Linked DNA regions of Homo sapiens. The protein of the gene in region 3 interacts with the protein of the main gene of each other region in a pairwise test. Each region holds a gene or a part of one and is shown on either strand. Other genes may lie near its edges.

Region 1 (7,000 bases), on a different chromosome or scaffold from region 3:
ACATAACCCATCTACTACAAGATCCTGTTATCTTTTGAAATGGAAAATCTGAAGCCCAGCTTATTAAAGCTGTTGATAGGATACAGCAATTGACTTCAATAAAATTTACTCCAATGCATTACAGATAGGATTTCTTTAAAAGTCCATTACAGCCAAGATCATCTAAAGTTAGTTAGCATTAAATAGCATTTCATAAAGACCACACGTTTTTTATCACAAGCATTCAGAAACCATTCTCAAAGAAAGATGTAGATGATACATCCCATCAGCTCAGAAGGACCTTCTTCCATCTTTTAAAAGACCTGTATCAAGCCCAAGGTGGTTGCCTTTTCTATCCTAAATTTAAGGATTTTTGCATAAGGTAATTCTATCATTTGCCTTAGTAACTTGCCTGGGTGTTTATTTTCAGGAAATCCTCATGTGTGGCCTTAAACTTACTTCCTGAAATCCAAGCCAGTCCTCATTGTTTTTTCCTTATGTGGGAAGATGAACAGCTCAGCACCTTCCATTTAATGAAATAACAAAAGTAGATATAAGTCCCTTAATTTCCTGATAAAATAGGAATATTTTATTTCTAAATAAAAGTGTGTACTATTTAAATAATAATGGTGGATAAAACATGCCATGAGTTCTCCCTTGCTTTTCACTAATGATTTTAAATATGTGAGAACTCAATTTTTTAAAATCTCATAGAAACCTTGAAAAAGTCATGTGCTGCTTTTCGGAATGAAACATCAGCAGTGGCAGCCAAGGGGAATACACTAGAGAACACAGGGCAAGTTTCACTTAAGCACAGATAATTTATTGTCCATTTCTATTTAATATTCAAAGACAAAATGGGGTACAATAAGAAAGCAAAATACTGAACTAAGTCTTTTGTCCTAGTAGCAAAGTTAAACCTTACAATTTTGATAGACTTATGTCCTGGGGAAAAAAAAACCCTAGCATGAATCTCTCTTTTAGAAGATAAATTTGGTCTCAATTTTAATGTGAAAACAAATTTGTGAAGCCATGGGGGAAGTCATTTAATATCTTCATTGCTTTCTCTGTATGTAACTGACCACCATCTTTTTGTTTTGTGGGACATCAGACATTACCACAGTATGGATGAGTTTAGCCACTATGACCTGCTTGATGCCAACACCCAGAGGAGAGTGGCTGAAGGCCACAAAGCAAGTTTCTGTCTTGAAGACACATCCTGTGACTATGGCTACCACAGGCGATTTGCATGTACTGCACACACACAGGTATGTTGGCACCCTGAAATCCAGAACCTCAAGCCTCAGAGAGAAACGGGTCATCTACCGTTAGTTAGCATTAAATAGCATTTCATGAAGAGCACACACATTTTTATCAAAAGGATACAGAGACTGTTCTCAAAGAAAACTGTAGATGATATACCCCATGAGTCTAGTATTTTCTTTCCTCTCACCTCTCTTTTATAAAGCATTCAATTTGAGGTCCATGTTGTTAAGATGTAAAATAATTGGGAAAAGGCAAATGATGGCTTGATGATCCAAATTACTTTTGAAGTATTTCCAGTTATGCATGTGGCCCCTATTCATGATCACAGGTCAGTGTGGGTCCTTGTTACAGTCCACAATGAAGAACAAAAATTTACTCTCTGAAAAAGTCTGAATGGTTGACAACATATGCACCCATTCTGTATTCCTTAACCGGCTTAGTAAATAACTGTAAAAAAAGATATCTCTGTTTTTTCACCTGTGAAACCATTCCTTCCTTCTGTTTTATGCTGAAAATAGAATAGTGGTTGCGGTTAGCAAATGGAGGAAAAATAAGTTTCTTTAAAAGCACTTTAAAAAGTTGCCTCTTTTAATAATGCAAATAAGAGCAGAAGGACACCATTTCTTTCTCCACACATATATATTTAAATCTACAGTATAATTGATGTCAGATGTTGTTTGGATGGATTTTTTTAAAGTAGTGCTGAACTAAGCAGTTTGCATGTTTTATCATTGGAAAATGCGTGTCAGTTAAAATCTATGTCAGTATTTCCATATGAAACCCTAATTTGTAAAAGGACATTATAATTTGACTCCCGCCCAGATCTTGGCAAGGGGTAGTGAATGTACATAACTGAGGGTATGAAGGGATCAGCAGTTGGCATCTTGGGAAGCAAATTCCAGGGCTGTGGCAGGAAGCTGTTTGGTGACCTAAATGTTACCATTGCTTTTTTCTCTGAGCTTAGAACATCATAGCAATTGGAGGGGGAAAGGTTAACTTCTACATGCCCCAGGACAGTACTTACTTAAGAAAGAGGAGATGTAACTTACCCACACATTATTCATGTGTGCATATACAGATTCCCTTTTCAGTGATCTGCAAGTCCTGTGCAAGGGACCTAGAGTTTATTTGCCCCATTTACAAAAAGAGGCACTCTGGACAGCTCACTCTGAAATATTTGAAGCTGGGATTGTAGACATTATAGCACTTCTGGTTCCCCCCCTTCTTTGGGGTGACCCCATTTCATTTTATATGGTAGCTTTCTTGTTAATCATCTTCCATATATGTTCTTTTTAACCATTATTCACCAAATCTTGCATTGAGCGATTTATATATTTGTTTTTTTCATTAGATCAATGTCTCTTTCACATGGACTTCATTTAAAGGAAAAAATAGTCTCTCAATCACCTAATGATGACTCAGATTAGTTTATTGTAATGCTGCTTAAATGTATTCAAGCATAAAACTAGGTATAACTTCTTTAGATTTATACTTTTACATATTAATAACTCTTGTGTTCTGAGACAAAAATTTACATATTAAATATATACGAAACTAAAACAGTTGAATTCACCTTATTAATTTAATGTAACAAATAGTATGTATTGCTAAAACTCAAATTGCTGATTTAGAGAGCCTCAGCTAACATTCAACATTGAATCTGTTTTTATATTTTGACTTTGCCTACATGAAATGCCTATTTGCCTTAGTAACTCGTTTTTGCTTGCTTGTGCAAATAATCAAAGCTTATACTTAAGTTCTGCCAGCTTATGAACTCGAGTGCCAATTTCAGCATTTTTAAGGCTCTTTTGTCTATTTGAAGGCAAGATAAGCACTGAAGCATTATGTAAACCCATCTTAAATGAATATCTAATCCAGTGAATCCTTTACAATGTCATGAACATTGTGGTAGTAGTAGAAGTAATAACTAGCACTTATTGAGTATGTATTATATGCCAGAATCAGAATTGTATGCTGGAATCAGACCAAAAATTCTTCATTTTATATTTACTACTCAACATACTGTTAAGTGATGTATGGATCAAGGTAGGAATCTAGATAATAACAACAGAATATGAGTCTCACTGCTGTGACACTGACCCTTCTGAGTTGGGCCTGTCTGTGCTATTGTGTGCTCTATGACAGCACAATTCTCCCCTGCTCTTCCCAAATCAAGCTACAGCTAAACCAGCATTGGTAGAGCATGCTAAGGTGATTTTACTGTCTCTTGGGTGACCAAAGTGATCTTAAACAGCAAAGCAATATTGGTTGCTAGAATTGAATGGCAGTATTGAGTTAAAATGAATCTAGCATGTACTTTGAATTTAAATTACTATTAGAATAAAAATACAAGTTAAAACTTTTTGTGAAGAACTAATGGAATCAAGAATATACCTACAGACTCCAATCTGAGGAAACTTCTCTAGACTATAACATTCTTAAAAGCAAGGATTGTATTTGTTATATTTTTCTCCTCCCAGCCTGTAGAAGGCATTCATTTACTTATTGATGTGAATATTTTAGCAAGTGGAGTGATGTGGCATTCATCAATTTAGTCATGCATTTACCCCTTCAACAAAATATGTCATATTTCAGTGACTGTATGAGAGAGAGTATAGTGGGGTAGTTAAGAACAGGGACTCTGGACCTTGATTACCTAAACTCAAAACCAGCTTAGCCACTTACTAGGCTGGATACCCTTGGGTAAGTTATTTGATCTTAGTGTGCCTTAGTTTTCTCATCTATAAAATGGAGATAATAGCCCCTCATGTAGTTGTGAAAATTGAATTTTTATACACACACACACACACACACACACACATATAAATGTTTACGATTGTTCCTGCCACATACTATTTAATAAATGTTAGTTATTCAAAGATACAACGTAAACTCTACCCTTAGGGAACTTGCAGCCTCTGGTTAGCTATATTCTTACATAGCATGTTATAATGCAGAGCAAAAAGGGATAAACACTGTAAAAGCTATCCACAATAAAAAGTATCATGGACGTTCAAAGCACAAGAAGGTAATTTCCAAAAGGGGAAACTGGGGAGGATTTCACTGAGAAGAGGACATTTGAGCTAAGATAATTATTATGTGGCCTTTATTCCTGAACTGTTAAAATTCTAGAACTTTGGTAGAGGCCTATTTTGTTCCTTCAGATTGCATTTATCTCTGGTGATATATGACACTTTTAAGAAGTGAGGTGTACTACTACTTATATTAGTCCTGTATCTTTTTTAGCTGGAGGTGCTATAAGGCTGAGTAATAAATACTTCTCAAGGGAGATGAAATATAAGTATAGTTTTATGTCAGACTCTTGTAAGTACTAACTTAAAATTTAATTTGCAAATAATAGCATATTATTTATCATAGTCTGACCACATACCATAATTTTAAATTTTTTATTTTGTTTATCTTAGGGATTGAGTCCTGGCTGTTATGATACCTATGGTGCAGACATAGACTGCCAGTGGATTGATATTACAGATGTAAAACCTGGAAACTATATCCTAAAGGTAAAGACCTTTGAAAATATATCATATATTGATATTGCAGATCAATAGGCCCTCTTCTCTGGATTCAAATGTTAAATAATCATGGTATTGGAAGCAATTATACATCCTCAAACTATTTATAAACAATCTAATCTAATCTAATCTGTCTTATTTTAAAGAACTTCAGGGGAAAATATGCAGTCTCTTTCCATAACGTCTCCAGAGTTTAACCACTTACTTAAGTTAAAATCCCTTCCCTGCTTGATTTAGCTAAGTCCTCATTAACAATTTCCTTATTGTAGCCCTATGGAAAAAGAAATACTGAGGAACTCTTTGTGTTGCCCAGGTCAGTGTAAACCCCAGCTACCTGGTTCCTGAATCTGACTATACCAACAATGTTGTGCGCTGTGACATTCGCTACACAGGACATCATGCGTATGCCTCAGGCTGCACAATTTCACCGTAAGTGTTATTTGCTTAGCTAAGTAATTGTTGTCACAAATAATTTTTGTTCATGCCAAACATTATACATAGAATGTATCTGTTTCTGCTACTACAGCAGCTTTCTTGTAAGCAGACCAAAGGCAGAAAATGGTATGCAGTCTGATTTTATTTTTTTAAATAATGGAAGGCAAAGGAGAATGTACTAAGGTTTTTAGTTTTCAGGAGAAGCTTAGTTTTCAGGAGAAGACATAAACAGACCACAGTGTTTACCCAGAAGGCATTTGTGAAGGCCCAATATATCAAATTGCTCAATATGTAGAGTGGGTGAGCTTGTAGAAGCCCCAGTAGTTGCTTCTTGGCCCCTTCCTCGCAGTCCCTGAAAGAATTGCTAGGGTTCTTCAAAGTACATTTTGAAAACCACTGCCATAAAGTAAGCAACTGAAGAGTTCAGCCCCCTCTGGTCTGTACAAATCAAGATGTCATATATTTGAGTTCTAGAACCATTGATACTAGGAAAATACTCTGCAAAAGATTGAGGTGTGTGGAGGTTTCTTCATAATATTCCTACTCCTGAGACTCTTCTTAGAATGAAATACTGGAAGATATCTATTCACAGGGAGGTGCTCTGATGAAAATAATGAAAAAAGGTTGGGTAGGTTTGACTGCATGCCTGTCTGTCCTGCCCCATCTCCTTAAGCACTACCTCCCCAAGTGTTGCTGGGTGCTAGATTATAATTACATATGCCACTTGAGTTATGCCTTCCCAACAATGAGAATACTATTTCCATTGGAATGATACTCAACACTCATCAGCTTTGCTTTGTCACTGGAGAACCACCAGTGCCACTGGATCATACAGACAGGTATAGCAGAGCTATACTAGAATCTCATAATTAATAGAAATTTCTGCCTGATACAAAAACCCAGGACTTTCTACATAAAGAAGCAGAGACTGTGCTTTACAAGTGTTGTCACAACATTAGAGATAGATGAAGCCTGTGATAGCAAAAGGATAGCACTGAAAAAACAGAGTCACATACATTCTTCTGAACATGCCCACAGCACAGAAAACCTGGCAGGTTTTATGGCCCATATTGTGTGGAGTTGGTTATAGTAGAACCAACCCCCGACCCCCACCGCCAGAACACCATTATAATTTAAGCTAAAATAATTTGCACTTAAATAAACAGATTAGTTTTTTCTTAATTTTTATAATTCCTTAATTTATTCATCCATTCTCCATTTATTTATTCATTTGCACTCTCATTTTTGTACTGTTTGTTGATGCCCTGAGCTAGATATTACTGAATAATGCAAACATAAATAGGACTACTAATCTCTATACTGCTGTAGCCTTATTACACTATTTTCAGTTAATTACTTATGAATTTCTTTGTTTAATGTCTGTCTCCTGCTCTACTCAGTGATGGCTGTGATTTAGTCTCTTGTCCACTGTTGTATACCCATTGTCAGGTACAGGTCTGCCACCTTGCAGCCTCTCACTCACTGCTTAATGAATTTCTTTCTCAAATAATTTGAGTAAAGGCATTTTGAGTAGGGGAAGTGAGAGAATTACACATATAACTGTAATAGAGATACAATATGAGAAGTTTCATGAGGGATAAAATAAAATGTGGTGAGATCAGAAGGACCTTTGCTATAAGTTTGGTAACTCCCAACTATGTCTTACTGACTTCCCACTAGAAATAGGTCTGGAGAGGTCTGTTGCATAGAATGTCTCTTGCTTTTAATCAGTAGAATCCATTGAATTGGGTATTGCTAGATATTTAGAAGAAATAAAAATTGTTGTA
Region 2 (7,127 bases), on a different chromosome or scaffold from region 3:
CAGTCGGACAACCCATCGGCTGGGACAGTACTGATTCTCCAGCTCCTGCAGGGCACAAACATGAGGCTCCGTAAGACTTTCCTTCTCAACAGAGTGTGCCCCTCCCCCTCGCCCATGCCCGGCTGCTCCTCTCTGCCTTAGAAGCCCTCGCCCCAGTATCCCAGGGTCTCCAAGATGCCCTCAGATCCATGGTCTAGAGGTATACCAGCGACCGCTGTGCCTTTAGCCAGCTGGCAGCCTTAAGGGGAGATGAGGTCCCCCAAACGAATTCAGTTAATGCCATCATGGGCACCACTCCCACAGCAGTTACGACCAGGGGAGGCCAGGTGGCCCGGTGGCTCACGCCTGTAATCCTAGCACTTTGGGAGCCTGAGGCAGGTGGATCACTTGAAGTCAGAAGTTTGAGACCAGCCTGGCCAACATGGCAAAACCCCATCTCTACTGAAAACAAAAACTAGCCGAGCGTGGTGGTGTGCACCTGTAATCCCAGCTACTTGGGAGGCTGAGGCAGGAGAATTGCTTAAGCCTGGGAGGTGGAGGTTGCAGTGAGCCGAGATCGCACCACTGCACTCCAGCCTAGCGACAGAGCAAGACTCTACCTCAAAAAAATTAAAAAAGGAGGAGCTGATCTGCGCTGAGAGGGTGCGATTCTGACCACAGGAGGTCACTGCACAGTCAAAGGCACAGAGGTGAGGAGGAAGGAATGAAAGGTCAGTTTGCAAATGCTGGCAGGCCCTATGGCTGACACACAGAGGTGAGGCTGGGAGGCTGGGCTGGAGGAGGAGGGGCGGTGAATGTCGGGCTAACACCTTCACACTTTATGCAGAAAGTAACAAGGAACCATTCTGAGGCAGTTTGGAGAATTAAAAAAAGAAAAAAAAAAACAGAGGCTGGGCGCGGTGGCTCACGCCTGTAATCCCAGCACTTTGGGAGGCGGAGGCGGGATCACGAGGTCAGGAGTTCAAGATCAGCCTGACCAACATGATGAAACCCCATTTCTACTAAAAATACAAAAATTAACCAGGCATGGTGACGCGCGCCTGTAATCCCAGCTACTCAGGAGGCTGAAGCAGGAGAATAGCTTGAACCAGGGAGGCAGAGGTTGCAGTGAGCCGGGATCATGCTACTGCACTCCAGCCTGGGCGACAGAGTGAGACCCCATCTCAAAAAAAAAAAAAAAAAAACCAACAGAAAATGCTGGACACGGTGGCTCTCGCCTGTAATCCCAGCACTTTGGGAGGCCAAGATAGGCAGATCACTTGAGTCCAGGAGTTCCAGACCAGTCTGGGCAATATGGCGAAACACTATCTCTACGAAAAATATGAAAAATCAACCGGGCATGGTGGTGGACACCTGTAGTCCTAGCTATTCGGGAGGCTAAGGCAGGAGAATCGCTTGAGCCCAGGAAGCAGAGATTGTAGTGAGCCAAGATTGCGCCATTGCACTCCAGCCTGAGAGAGCAAAACCCTGTTTCAAAAAAAAAAAAACAAAACACTGGGCGTGGTGGCTCACACCTGTAATCCCAGCACTTTGGGAGGCTGAGGCGGGTGAATCACCTGAGGTCAGGAGTTCGAGACCATCCTGGCCAACATGGTGAAACTCCGTCTCTACTAAAAATACAAAAATTAGCTGGGCATGGTGGCGGGCGCCCGTAATCTCAGCTACTCGGGAGGCTGAGGCAGGAGAATCGCTGGAACTCGGGAGGTGGAGGTTGCAGCGAGCTGAGATCCCACCATTGCACTCTAGCCTGGGTGACAACAGCGAGACTCCATCTCAAAAAAAAAAAAAAAAAAAAGTAACAAGGAACCAGATTTTGAAGAAAGGGCTCAAAACCATCATGAGAAATGGGAAGTCAGGGCAGCCTCATGGCAAGGCCTGAGGTCAAATGCCATCTGACCTCCCTCACTTACTTACTGTTTTATCCTCAACAAGTTACTTAGTCTCTGAGATTCAGTTTCCTGACTGGTAGAAGGTATCTATCCAGGCCCGGCACAGTGGCTCACACCTGTAATCTCAGCACTTTGGGAGGCCGAGGCGGGTGGATCACTTGAGGCCAGGAGTTCAAGACCAGTCTGTCCAACATGGCGAAACCCCATCTCTATTAAAAATACAAAAATTGGCCAGGCGCAGTGGCTCATGCCTGTAAACCCAGCACTTTGGGAGGCCAAGGGGGGCGGATCATGAGGTCAGGAGTTGGAGACCATCCTGGCTAACACAGTGAAACCCCATCTCTACTAAAAATACAAAAAAATTAGCCGGGCATGGTTGCGGGCGCATGTAGTCCCAGCTACTCAGGAGGCTGAGGCCGGAGAATGGCGTGAACCCTGGAAGAAGAGGTTGCAGTGAGCCCAGATCGCGCCACTGCACTCCAGCCTGGGCGATAGAGCGAGACTCTGTCTCAAAAGAAAAAAAAAAAAAATTAGCCAGGCATGTAGTACCAGCTACAGTGTGCCTGTAATCCCAGCCACTCGGGAGGCTGAGGCAGGAGAATCACTTGAACCCGGGAGGTAGAGGTTGCAGTGAGCCGAGATCATGCCACTGCACTCCAGCCTGGGTGACTGAGCGAGACTGTGTCTCAAAAAAAGAAGGCATGTATCCAAATCACAAGGTTAAAAGAGATAAAGCATGCGAGTAAAATAAAGCAAGCCAGTCAGTGTGGGTTGCTTCTTCCTCCCAGTGAAGGAGCTCTTTGTCAGAGGTCCTTGGATCTGTCCAATCTGTACCTGGAAAGGTTATTACCTGTAGGATCCTTACAGCCACACCTGGCACACTCTGTGATCACTACCACCATCTTTGTTGCTATTATTTATGATCATGATTATACAATGGGTTTCTTTTCTTTCTTTCTTTTTTTTTTTGAGCCACCGCACCCGGCCTGTATGTTTCTAACCTTCACAACCCCAATGTAAATACCAGCTGTTCTGAATCCTTCAGCCTGTGCCACATAAGCACAGACCCAAAAACATTGTGTAACCTCAGATCAAGGTCCAGAACTTTGTCCCCTAACCTCCTGCGGGTCTATGGATTTTTTTTTTTTTTTTTTTTTTTTTTTTTGAGACTAAGTCTTGGTCTATCGCCCAGCCTTCCAGGCTGGAGTACAAATGGCATGATCTCGGCTCACTGCAACCTCCACCTCCTGGGTTCAAGCGATTCTCCTGTCTCAGCCTCCCCAGTAGCTGGGATTACAGAGGTACATCACCACGCCCGGCTAATTTTTGTATTTTTAGTAGAAACGGGGTTTCACCATGTTGGCCAGGCTGGTCTCGAACTCCTGACCTCGTGATCCGCCAAAAGTGCTAGGATTACAGGTGTGAGCCGCCACGCCTGGCAGGGTCTACGGATATTATTAGCATAGTCAGGACTTCAATTTTCTTTATCCTGAAAACCAGGTTAACAAAAATCCTTAGGAGAAGGTAAAATACACCATGGTGCTCAAGCACTGGGGACCTGGCACGCACTAGGCGCTCTGCATGCCCACAGGAGTGCTCTAGACGGCTTCTAAGCTTCCTTCTTGGAATTCCAATCTAATAAATGAGCTAACTCCGCCCCAGCCCCTTAGTCCCTCCCTGCAATCCACCTACCTCTGCAGACATCTTCTTCCAAGGAACCTTGCTTGGGAAACCCACACCAGACACATCCATCATGGCGTCTACAGCCGCATGGGCGTGCGTCCCTCTGTTTATATGGCCAGAGCCCCGCCTCGCTCCGCCCCTTTAAACTTGGTGGGCGGACCGAGGCGGGGCTCAGACCAGGCCCCACCCCGATCAGCCACGTCCATCGCCCTGATTTCCAGGCCCTCCCAGTCCCTGGGCGCACGTCCCGGATTCCTCCCACGAGGGGGCGGGCTGCGGCCAAATCTCCCGCCAGGTCAGCGGCCGGGCGCTGATTGGCCCCATGGCGGCGGGGCCGGCTCGTGATTGGCCAGCACGCCGTGGTTTAAAGCGGTCGGCGCGGGAACCAGGGGCTTACTGCGGGACGGCCTTGGAGAGTACTCGGGTTCGTGAACTTCCCGGAGGCGCAATGAGCTGCATTAACCTGCCCACTGTGCTGCCTGGCTCCCCCAGCAAGACCCGGGGGCAGATCCAGGTGCGGGGGCCAGCCCTGCGCGTGGCTGGGGATGAGGTGGTCGTGGTGATAGCCTGTGTCCAGGCATCCGCGCAGGGCGGGCCCTCAAATGACCTCACCTTCTCTCCTAGGTGATTCTCGGGCCGATGTTCTCAGGAAAAAGGTAATGGCTTCGCGGGGCTGGGGTGGAGCTCCTTCCTCTTCTCCGGGGACCCCTTGTCCCGTCCCTCCCCTCCCCTTCCCTCCCCTCCCCTCCCCTCCCCTTCCCTTCCCTCCCCTTCCCTTCCCCTAGAAGGACCAGCACAGCCTCCTACAGCTCCCGCCTGGGGTGCTCCTCCCTTGAATTCAGTCCAGGAGGAAGTCTCTGCCCTCTTCTGCCCAGGCCAAGCCCCTCGTCCTGTGTGGACGCCACTCCCTCCTGGAGCTGGTGACAGCTGCTTACAGCTTAGCTGTCTTCCCCACCAAGTCCTCTGAGAAGGTGGCAACCAGTTGTGTCCCCTGTAGGCCAGGCCTTTTTGTACACCCCTATTCAATGTGGCTGTTTCCTTCTAAGGCCAAGGAAACGTAGTCGCTTTCTAAACCAAGGAGTCTGAAGCCGTGGAGCCTCTGCTCTCCTGAGGTGATAGAACCATTCCCTGACCCGGGTGGGGCTAGTGAGTTTCTTGAGTAAACTACCCACGCACCATTCTTTTTGTTTTGTTTTTGTTCTTCTAGAGGTAGGATCTTGCTATGTTGCCCAGGCTGGTCTCAAACTCCTGGGCTCAAGCAATTCTCTCACCTCAGCCTCCCAAGTAGCTGGGACTACAGGCGTGCACCCCCCCGCCTCCACCCAGCTAATTTTATTTTATTTTTATAGAGCTGGGGTCTTGCTATGTTGCCCAAGCTGGTCTTGAACTCCTGGTCTCAAGCAATCCTCCTACTTCAGCATCCCAAAGTGCTGGGATTACAGATGTTAGCCACCATGCCCTGCCCCAACATTCTTTTATGGCCCTGGGGATCACTTCAGCTCAAACCCCTTGCTCAGGAAGATGTGGCTCAGAGTTGGACTTCTTGGACCCAGAAGCAAGTGCTTTTGACGCTGCACACAAAGACTTTCTGAAATTAATTTAGAAAAGCTGTATGCCAGGTGTGGTGGCCCACGCCTTTAATCCCAGCGCTTTGGAAGGCTGAGGTGCGTTGATCACTTGAGGTTAGGAGTTTGAGACCACCCTGGTCAACGTGGTAAAACCCCATCTCTACTGAAAAAAAAAACCAAAAATTATCTGGGCATGGTGGCAGCCTCCTGTAATCCCAGCTACTCGGGAGGTTGAGGCAGGAGAATCTCTTGAACCCGGAAGGCAGGGGTTGCAGTGAGCTGAGATCGCTCCACTGCACTCTAACCTAGGCAACAGAGCGAGACTCCACCCCAAAAAGAAAGAAAGAAAAACTCTGAACTCTGGGAACAACTCTGGGATGAGGTTACTTTGGAATGCAGTCGCAGGTTCCCTCTACATGTAGCCTTTGCTTCTGCCTTCCCCACTACATCTTGGAGAAGGTTACTCCTCCCACACTTCCTGGGACCACCTGAGTACCATTCCTGGACCTCTTCCCCATAGAGAATTCTGACTTCCAACCCTCTTTGTAGGGATATTATACCCTGCCTGCTCTGCCCTGCTCTTTTCTGGCTGTGGTGGGCTCAGTCTGCATACCACTAGGGACAATGAGGAGCCAGGCTTGTTGGGGAGGGGTCTCCTTCTCCCACTCCTCCCGCCGTGGACCTCACCTGACCCTCTCTCCTCTTGCAGCACAGAGTTGATGAGACGCGTCCGTCGCTTCCAGATTGCTCAGTACAAGTGCCTGGTGATCAAGTATGCCAAAGACACTCGCTACAGCAGCAGCTTCTGCACACATGACCGGTCAGTCCCTGCCCCCTGCAGTCCTGTCCAGTGGAAAATCACAAGGCACAGGACACACTGTTAGGACTCTCTTTAATGGGGATGGTTAATCATTTGAACATTGAATGATTCAAATCAGCACACTTTCCAAGGTGCTTGGCAAGGTAGCGCACACTCTCCACTCCCTGGGCTGGAGCCAGTGGTTCTCCACTGAGGGTGATTTTGCCGCCAGGGTCCATTTGACAATGTTTGAAGACATTTCTAGTTGTTGCAACTGGAGGGGGGAGGGGATGCTTTTGGGCTTTAATGTGTAGAAATCAGGGACACTGCTGCTAAGGGTCCTATGGTGCAGAGGACGGCCCCCATGCAAGAACGAGCTGGCCCCAAATGTCAGGAGCCTGCCAGTGTTCAGAAACTCTGCCGTAGGGTTTCAGCTTCACACAGGCTGCAGACTGGTTTGGTTTGGCCTGCACGTTGATTTTTGTTTAATTTTTTAGTTGTCCGTTGTTGGCTGGCTCCCCCGTCACCTGGCAGCCTTCACGCTTCCCTGTTTTATGTGTAGCTGTTTGAGCTCGCTGGACATTTCCGCCTGCAACCTCAGTTTGGGAGTTAAATTCACTTCCTTGGCAGCAGATGTGGGCCTGATGTTTCTGAGCCTGAGACGCTTTGCTTGGTCCTCTGGACTTGTCCACCTGGGCACCCAGTGGCAAAGCCATGCTGTGCCACACATTATAGGGCTTCAGCCTCAGAGCCCTGGCTGGGAGCTGTATCCGAGAGTTGCTATGGCTGTGCAGAGAACAGATCCACCCGGCGTGTGGCCTTCGGTGGGAGCTGAGGGGCTCCTGAAGCCAGATGCTGGTGGAGTGGAGGGTGCTTGGGGCTTGGAGTTGCATGTGGGAATTTAACCGCACTTCGTGACCATGCTGTCTGATGTAGGTCATTTACTTTTCCAAATTTGCTTCCTCATTCCTAAGATGCGATGTCCACGGCACAGGGTGGTGTTACACCTGGTGGGGACAGGGAAAGCAGAGGAGGTCACTTCGTTCCAGCTGTTGGAAGTACAACTTCTGGAGTCAGTCAGATCCGGGATTAAATATGAGTTCTGCCCGTGTGTCACAAGTCATCTCTAACACGGGCCACAGAGGCCAAGGCTGGGCCAGCAGCATTGATGGCTCGAGAGGCTGCCCT
Region 3 (7,407 bases):
CAGGTCAAGAGGCTCTGCAAGAATTGGCTTGAGGATTTTGACACCTGACTCAAATAAAAATTTTTAGAGATAAGAATTAGGTACATAGGAATTGGAAAAAAATCAGATTTAGAATCCGAAGACCCCAGGTCAGAGTTACAATCCTGCTATTAGCTAGCAGCATAACCTTGGGCAGGTATTTTAATTGCTCTAAGCTTTGATTTTCCTCCTCAGTTAAGTGAAATTAATCATACCTGCCTTGCCTCCTTCACAGAGTTGGAGTGAGGATAGATCATGATCCATCATATTCATGTGGGTGAATATGCTTTACAAACTAAAAAGCGTAATATAAGCAGTTAGTTATTATTAACAAGCTGAGAATATTATCTAATTGCTTATAAATACATGCTGTGTGTACACTCATGATCTGCCACTGGGTAAATAAAACCTTGCTTCCGCTCAGTACAAGTTTGTGCATAGTCCTTTAGTGAACAAGACAAGGAAAATAACATTTAGCAGCTGTTATCAACCAGGCCCTTTCATGTCTATGCTTTTTTTTTTTTTTTTTTTGAGATGGAGTCTCGCTCTGTTGCCAGACTGGAGTGCAGTGGCACAATCTTGGCTCACTGCAACTTCCACCTCCTGGGTTCAAGTGATTCTCCTGCCTCAGCCTCCCGAGTAGCTGGGACAACAGGTACATGCCACCATGCCCAGTTAATTTTTGTATTTTTAGTAGAGACAGGGTTTCACCATGTTGGTCAGGATGGTTTTGATCTCCTGACCTCGTGATCCGCCCGCCTCAGCCTCCCAAAGTGCTGGGATTACAGGCGTGAGCCACCGTGCCTGGCCTCATGTCTATACTTACAAGCAAATCTGCAGCTCTACAAGAAAAGAAAATGTATATATATATATATATCTATCTATCTATATATATAGATAGATATATATATATAGATAGATAGATATATAATTTAATCCTATAAAAATATTATTACTTCATTTTCACAAAAAGGAAATTAAGATACGGTGGTATTAAATGTTGTTTAATGCAATGTTCCCAAATTCTGTTCCCTGGAACCCTGGTCCTGAGACCTACTCCTCTATTAAAGCGTTCTATGGTCCAAAACTTTGAGAAACAATGAATTCTTTTTCCTTCTCCAATAGACTTATAGCACATGATACCATATCGGAAACCATGGGAAAGATTCTATAATAAAGAAGCTTGCTATATTGAAGAAATCTGTTAAACTTTGCTCAGTCCAGAGTTCTCCGAGCTAATTTAATCTTGAGGCTGTATTTTTGAATTATACTTATTTAAATCTGATAGAACTGGGATTCTACAGAAAACACTTGCCAAATGCAGATCTAAGATTATGATTGGAGTTAGTGTGTGGTAGATCTGCAATCAGAACACAAAGCTGTCCTCTTTTAAAAGAAATAATGTAACCATAGGCCAAAACAATAGGAAAATAGAGAAGAGCTCCCATAAAATTTTAGTATACTACATCTATTGCTAACTATATTAATACTATGTTTTGTAATTTTTTTCAGCCTTCTTTTTTTCTTGGTTATAGTACAAAGACCTTTGTCTTCTGTTTTTGTTTATTGTTGTAAAATATACATAGCATAAACTTTATCATTTTAACAATTATTGAGTATGTAATTTGGTGGCATTGAGTCCATTCATGTTGTTAGGCAACTATTACCACCATCCCTCTCCAGAACAGTTTTATCTTTCTAAACTGAAACTCTGTATTGTCTTCTGATGATTTTACCCAACATTTGATCATAAGCATTTTTCCATCTTGCAATTTACTTTTTTCATAACTTTCATTTCTAGTGGCTATGAGATATTCTACCATATAATGCTTATGAATCTGCCTATTGTAGAATATTTATATTCTTTCTCTTTTGAAATGATAAACATATTAAATAACATTTTTCATATTTTGGATTATTTACTTGCAATAGCTTCTAGACTAAAGAATAGGAAGATTTTAGTGATTTTTAATGCAGGCTGATGATTTCTTTTCCTAAAAGTTTAACCAAATTTATACTTCTATTGATTCATGTATTCATTTATTCTTTCAAACAAACAAAAATCTACTAATTCCTAATATTTGCCACGCACTTAGCTATGTAGAAGACCCACCAGATTTCTACTCAAGTGATTTCAATCCATACTGGTCGCATTAGTTATGCACAAAAGGAATAATGTACTTACCTAAAAGTTTTATTGCATGCTTTTGATTTTTAGTGAGAAACCATCTGTGTTGGTTTGCTGATTTCTTTTGAGAATTTCCTTTCTTCTCTTTGCATCGCCTCCCCCACTTCTCACTTAAGTATGTGTCTTTGGGTAAGTTACTTAATCTATAACCTTGTTTTCTTATTTGTCAAATGGGAATAATTGTACCAAAGTCTTCACGGAATTGTTGACTGAACTCAATGAAACACTGAAAATCTTGATGTCTCAGTGTGACATTGTATACTCTAAGACAGTGCCTAGAACATTTGAAGAACTTTCTAAACATTACCTGCTATTATTATTACTTCCATGATAGAGAAATTAATAAAGTTTCATGAAATGAATCTTCTATCAGCTGTCCCCCAAAATGGGCAAGGTAAGAATTGTGTGCACTTTGTCCTGGCACTGTGTGAAAATATTTAAAGAAGTTTTTTGTTTGTGTGTTTAAACAAACAAATTACCACGTCATGAACTTCTTTTACATTTCTTACAAGAGTAGAACAGATGAATTAGTATACAGACAGTAGGGTTTTGTTTGTTTTTACTGGGAAAAATTGCTGCTAAATTTTAGGAAGTTCTGCTGTCCTCAAAAAGAAAAATATGTCCCTCAGTTTTTTGTTACCTGGGATCTAGGAATGTTCTCTAATTAAAGAAATGGAATGGTGATGGTGTGTTGAAAGGTATAGGTTAATGAGTTAAAAAAAAAAAATCTACATTGCACCCTAAGGAAGGATGAACTTAACTATGCTGAACTGAATTGACAAGGGTTGAGCTAGTCAGTGTGCTAATGAGCAGGCTACTATTCTCATAGAATTTTTAAAAGTCTTTTCTGCCTGATATGTATGTGTGTATAATATGTATTTATATATGTATATATTTGTGTGTATATTTATTACATTTTTGTTTCCACAGGCTCTGTCATAAGTCTGGTCATTAATAGCATATATTTGATTAAAAGAATATGTGGCTTGGTAAATTATGTGAATGTTATATTAAAATGAATTTCACATTGTCTTGATTTACAAAGGCTAAGATGTCTGAGAAACTGAGAGATGTCAATCAACAGACTATTGTTTTAGCAATTGTACATAACACATAAAAATTCTGAATCAAAGTTATTATGTTATTCAATTGTGACCATACCTATTTTTTGTGACATTTTACAAAAATGAATAAAGTATGCACCATACAGTCTTACCACAGAAGTAAGGCAGGGTGGCATATGGCGAAACCACTTCAAGCTGCTGAAGTAGTTAACTGTGAAATATTTTACTGTCATAATATAGCATTATTTTCTGCCAGATGAATCATTCCGAAGAAGCTGTTTTCATGGTCAGTGTAAAAGTCCTTTTGTTAAATACTTATGTCTTAACTACCTACTAGATATTAAAAAAAACAAAACCACACACACACCAGACCTAGGTGCAAGGAAGGGATAATAAGCCCTGATGCAGTTCTTAGGTGAGAACTGGAAAGGGGCCGGAGGGTTTCAGAGCAACAAGCAAAGTCAGTGAAGCAGAGTAAATCCAAATACTTGGCCAATGACAAATAAACCAGAAAGGAGACACGCCAGCTGTTCACGCTGGAAAGTTACTGATCGTTTATTCTGGTTCAAGTTTTATTTATTCTATGAATAAGGGACAAGTTTTCGATGGGGGTGGGGTGTCTTATTCCTTATTACAAGAATAAGGAACGGGGAGTTTTCAAGGCAGGCGGGTGTTTCCTCAGGGCGCTTCCACACTCCCCTTTCAATCAGCAACCGCTCGGGGGGACCTCCACCTTGGGACGGAACCCCAGGACGCCTCTCCTCGGACGGCGGGGGTTTCTCTGCGCGCGTCCTCGGTCGTCTGGTCGCACGGCTTACCGAACTCTCGCCTCTCAAATTCTGAGTTCTGGAACAGGGCAGCGAGCTGCGCCGGCTCCCCTTTCTCGCTCGCTCCCTCCGAGCAGCGGCTGGCGGCGGGGCCCAGGCTGCGAACAAAGGCGGCGCGGGGCGCGCGGCCGGGGCTGGCGCGCGTCTCTCCGGCAGGAGGCGGTGGCGGCGCCGCGCCCGAGCCCGCATTCCTCAGAAGCGCCCGGAGCCCGCGGGGCGACGTCACCCCCGGCTCCGCCCCCGTCCCTCCCCGAGCAAAGTAACTCTTGACTAACAGGAGCAGCCTCCGCCGAGCATGGAGAGCTGCCGCCGCGGCCGGCCGGCGACGCTGGCGACGCTTTCGCCCCTGAGGTAGTTTGGCGACCGCGAAGAAGGAAAAAGGGCGGGCGGGCGGCTGTCCTCTCACCGTCCTCACCCCGCGAGGCCCGGCCCGCTCCTCCGTCGTGGATTTCGCGGCGATCCCCCCGGCAGCTCTTTGCAAAGCTGCTTGAAACTTCTCCCAAACTCGGCATGGATACGACTGCGGCGGCGGCGCTGCCTGCTTTTGTGGCGCTCTTGCTCCTCTCTCCTTGGCCTCTCCTGGGATCGGCCCAAGGCCAGTTCTCCGCAGGTGAGTGGCCGGGGGGCGTCCCCGACGAACGCCTGGAGTCCTGGGCTCACGAGGGGTGAGCCAGGTCCCCGCTAGGGCTGGGGACAAGGATCGTGGGGAGCTCTCTCTGTCCGGGGGTGGGGAACACAGGGTAGAGGGAGGGCTGTCCCCAGAGTTCGTGCCAGGTGGGACGCGGGGCACCCATTGTTCCTCTCCGAAGCTTGCTCGGGGCTCAGGCTGGCACGGTCTAGCCGGAGAGTGTGGGGACCTGCTGGCTTCGGCGTCTCGCGTGGCCTGCGCCGGGCTAGTGGGGAAGAGAGAAAGAAAAAGTAGTTACGACTCCCGTGACGGCACTCTGTTGCTTGTGGTGCGGGTTTGTTGCTGTCTGCCACTTGGGTGTTTAAACAAATTCCCTGGGAAGCCATTGTCAGAAATGTGGAGATTCGAAGGGACTGACCTCGGCGCGCTTTGCCAGGTGCTTTTTGTCCCGGGAATAACCTCCCCTGACTATTGTCTAACTACTTCCCCGTCCCTCCCGGAGTCCCCTTTTCTCCTCCCCCAGCTCTGGGTTGCTCCCGGGCTTGCCCTGTGCGCTCGGGCACTGCTTGGAGCATGTTCTGTGTGTGTGTTGGCGGAGCCCTGTAAGATGTGTTGAAATGCGGTTCTAAGGACCCACTCTGAGCGTTCATGGGCATCGAGGTCTGGGCGCCTGGTGGAGGAAGCCTGACTCGCGCGTGGGAGCCCGCTCCTCGGGCAAAACCACCGCCAGGCTGGCCCCGCGCTCCCCGGATCCGGCCTGGGGCTCTGGCCCCGCGCTCCCCGGATCCGGCCTGGGGCTGGAAGCGGACTGTAAATGTCTGCCTTCTGCCGGAGAACCCAAAAGGAGACAAGTGGAGCGTCTCGCTGTAGCCCTGGGGGTTCTCGGTCAAGCCGCTCAGAGAAGTCCGTGAACCCTGGCTCTCCCGGTCCCGCCCTCTGTTCCCCTCCAGTTTTGTTATCCTTCGTGTAGGTTGGTTGCTTCTTTCGTTCTCTCCTCTGGGGGCTCTGAAGTTTCACCAGGTGGACGCTGGGGAGCGGGCTCCCGAGCACTTGTCTACCTCCCGCCAGTCCTGACAACTTTTCTGGCCAACCTACCCAGCTTCGCTTGGCTGGCGAGCGCATCTGCTGCTGGGGTTCGCGGTGCAGATGGAGACGCAGTGGTGGCCAGAGGGTGATGGAGAAGACGGGAAAAGCGACAGCCACGCTCCTGGCTGAAGCCGCAGGACGCAAATAACTTACTTTGTACCTGACAGTTTCTCACGTTGTTGTGGAGGCCCTGTTTCCTGGAAATAAACTCAAATTGTTGTTTTCTGGAGTAATCGTTTATTTCCCTTCCATTGCTCTCCTACCCCCGCCCCATTTAGAACTCTGTAAAGGGAGTTAAACAACAGATTCAGGTGGCAGCATGTGTCGTACATTCAGGCAGAGATTATGAAATGGCAGCACGCAGAGGAAAAGCCCTGTATATAATTGATGTACGCAGAGGGTAACAGCTCTATGCAAAAAATAATCCAATGGTTTAATTGAATTCTTTCTGGAGTAAGCATTACTGCATGCATTTCTGACATATAATGCCCGTTAGCATTGAAACCGTGCTTGATGTAACTCATTATATGCAGGCAAGTTGGAGTGAGTATTGATTTCTGCACAGTGTTTGTCACTGCACGGAGAGCCTACGCTTGAAAAGGCTTGTAGTTTGTTAATTGAAAGTTTGAACTCTACCAGTTGCATAATTAAACTTACATGTATTCAAGAGTTGCAACTATTAATGTCTCAACAGCGATGGATATATTTTCAGCAGTTAGAAAACTTTTTCTCTTTTTAAATGTTATTTACCCTTTAATTAACAAATAAATACTACTTTTCCTCCAGCTGAATGTGAAAATGAGCTTTTCTGATACCTGGAGTTTAGATACGTACAATAAACAATTGTGTTCTTAGATATCTAGTTCTAAGTACTTTAACTAAATATGCCTGGCTTTTCTTTAGTGACAAAGCATAACATTTGACATGATGTTGTATATTTAATTAATATAATGTGCATTCCTAAAAAGTACAGTAATCACAGGATTGCATCTCAAGATTTTGCCCTTTAGGAATGTATGCCCAGAAATGAATGTCTTTTATTCCCAGAGTTTAAAGTCAGATTGTGGATTTGCCTTTCTCCACAAATTATAAGTTTGTTTTGTAAATACTTCCTTTTTTTTCTGGCTACCATAAATCATTTGATATTTTATTGTCATAAAATTCTATGGCAGTCAGATTTGTTGCAGACATAGATTAGAGATGTATTGAAGATTGGAGGTGTATTCCATATTGCTGGTTTTTCTTATATTTTACTTTAACTAGTGAACTTTTATTCCTTTTGAGAAATTTAAATAAACCCACTTTAAAAGTCCAAGACAAATTCATGTTGAGAATTTAAAAATATCTGAAGTATGTCTTTCAAATCATACTCATTAAGATCAGTTTACTTTCCGATATCATGTGGTTCCTAATGTAGTAAGCTTCAAAAGCAAATTTTGAAAGGCTGAGCATTGTTGGGACTTTGATGTGTCATATACTTATTCAGTTTTCTTTGTTTAAACCAAAAATGTAAGAGTGTTTTCATTATTGTGACTTTTTTCTTAGCTTTTGCAGTTAAAGTGTAAAACTGCTGCACTGTGAGCCTCTTTAAAACCA

What was found.
Region 1: the proteins of PTPRK (region 3) and LOX interact in binary tests that used the Homo sapiens proteins (3 or more experiments, as listed by UniProt).
Region 2: the proteins of PTPRK (region 3) and TK1 interact in a two-hybrid assay, tested with the Homo sapiens proteins (2 studies listed by BioGRID and IntAct).

Annotation. Positions count from the first base shown.
Region 1 is NC_000005.10:122,068,260-122,075,259, reverse strand, and holds part of LOX (protein-lysine 6-oxidase isoform 1 preproprotein), read left to right. Parts: intron 1-1,090; coding exon 1,091-1,247; intron 1,248-4,670; coding exon 4,671-4,766; intron 4,767-5,091; coding exon 5,092-5,207; intron 5,208-7,000. UniProt on the Homo sapiens protein: Responsible for the post-translational oxidative deamination of peptidyl lysine residues in precursors to fibrous collagen and elastin. Regulator of Ras expression. May play a role in tumor suppression. Plays a role in the aortic wall architecture.
Region 2 is NC_000017.11:78,183,888-78,191,014, reverse strand, and holds the start of TK1 (thymidine kinase, cytosolic), read left to right. Parts: upstream 1-3,962; 5' UTR 3,963-4,020; coding exon 4,021-4,086; intron 4,087-4,196; coding exon 4,197-4,228; intron 4,229-5,849; coding exon 5,850-5,960; intron 5,961-7,127. Other genes in the region: AFMID (kynurenine formamidase), read right to left, coding at 1-45, 3,582-3,644. UniProt on the Homo sapiens protein: Cell-cycle-regulated enzyme of importance in nucleotide metabolism. Catalyzes the first enzymatic step in the salvage pathway converting thymidine into thymidine monophosphate.
Region 3 is NC_000006.12:128,517,559-128,524,965, reverse strand, and holds the start of PTPRK (receptor-type tyrosine-protein phosphatase kappa isoform b precursor), read left to right. Parts: upstream 1-4,366; 5' UTR 4,367-4,607; coding exon 4,608-4,707; intron 4,708-7,407. UniProt on the Homo sapiens protein: Regulation of processes involving cell contact and adhesion such as growth control, tumor invasion, and metastasis. Negative regulator of EGFR signaling pathway. Forms complexes with beta-catenin and gamma-catenin/plakoglobin.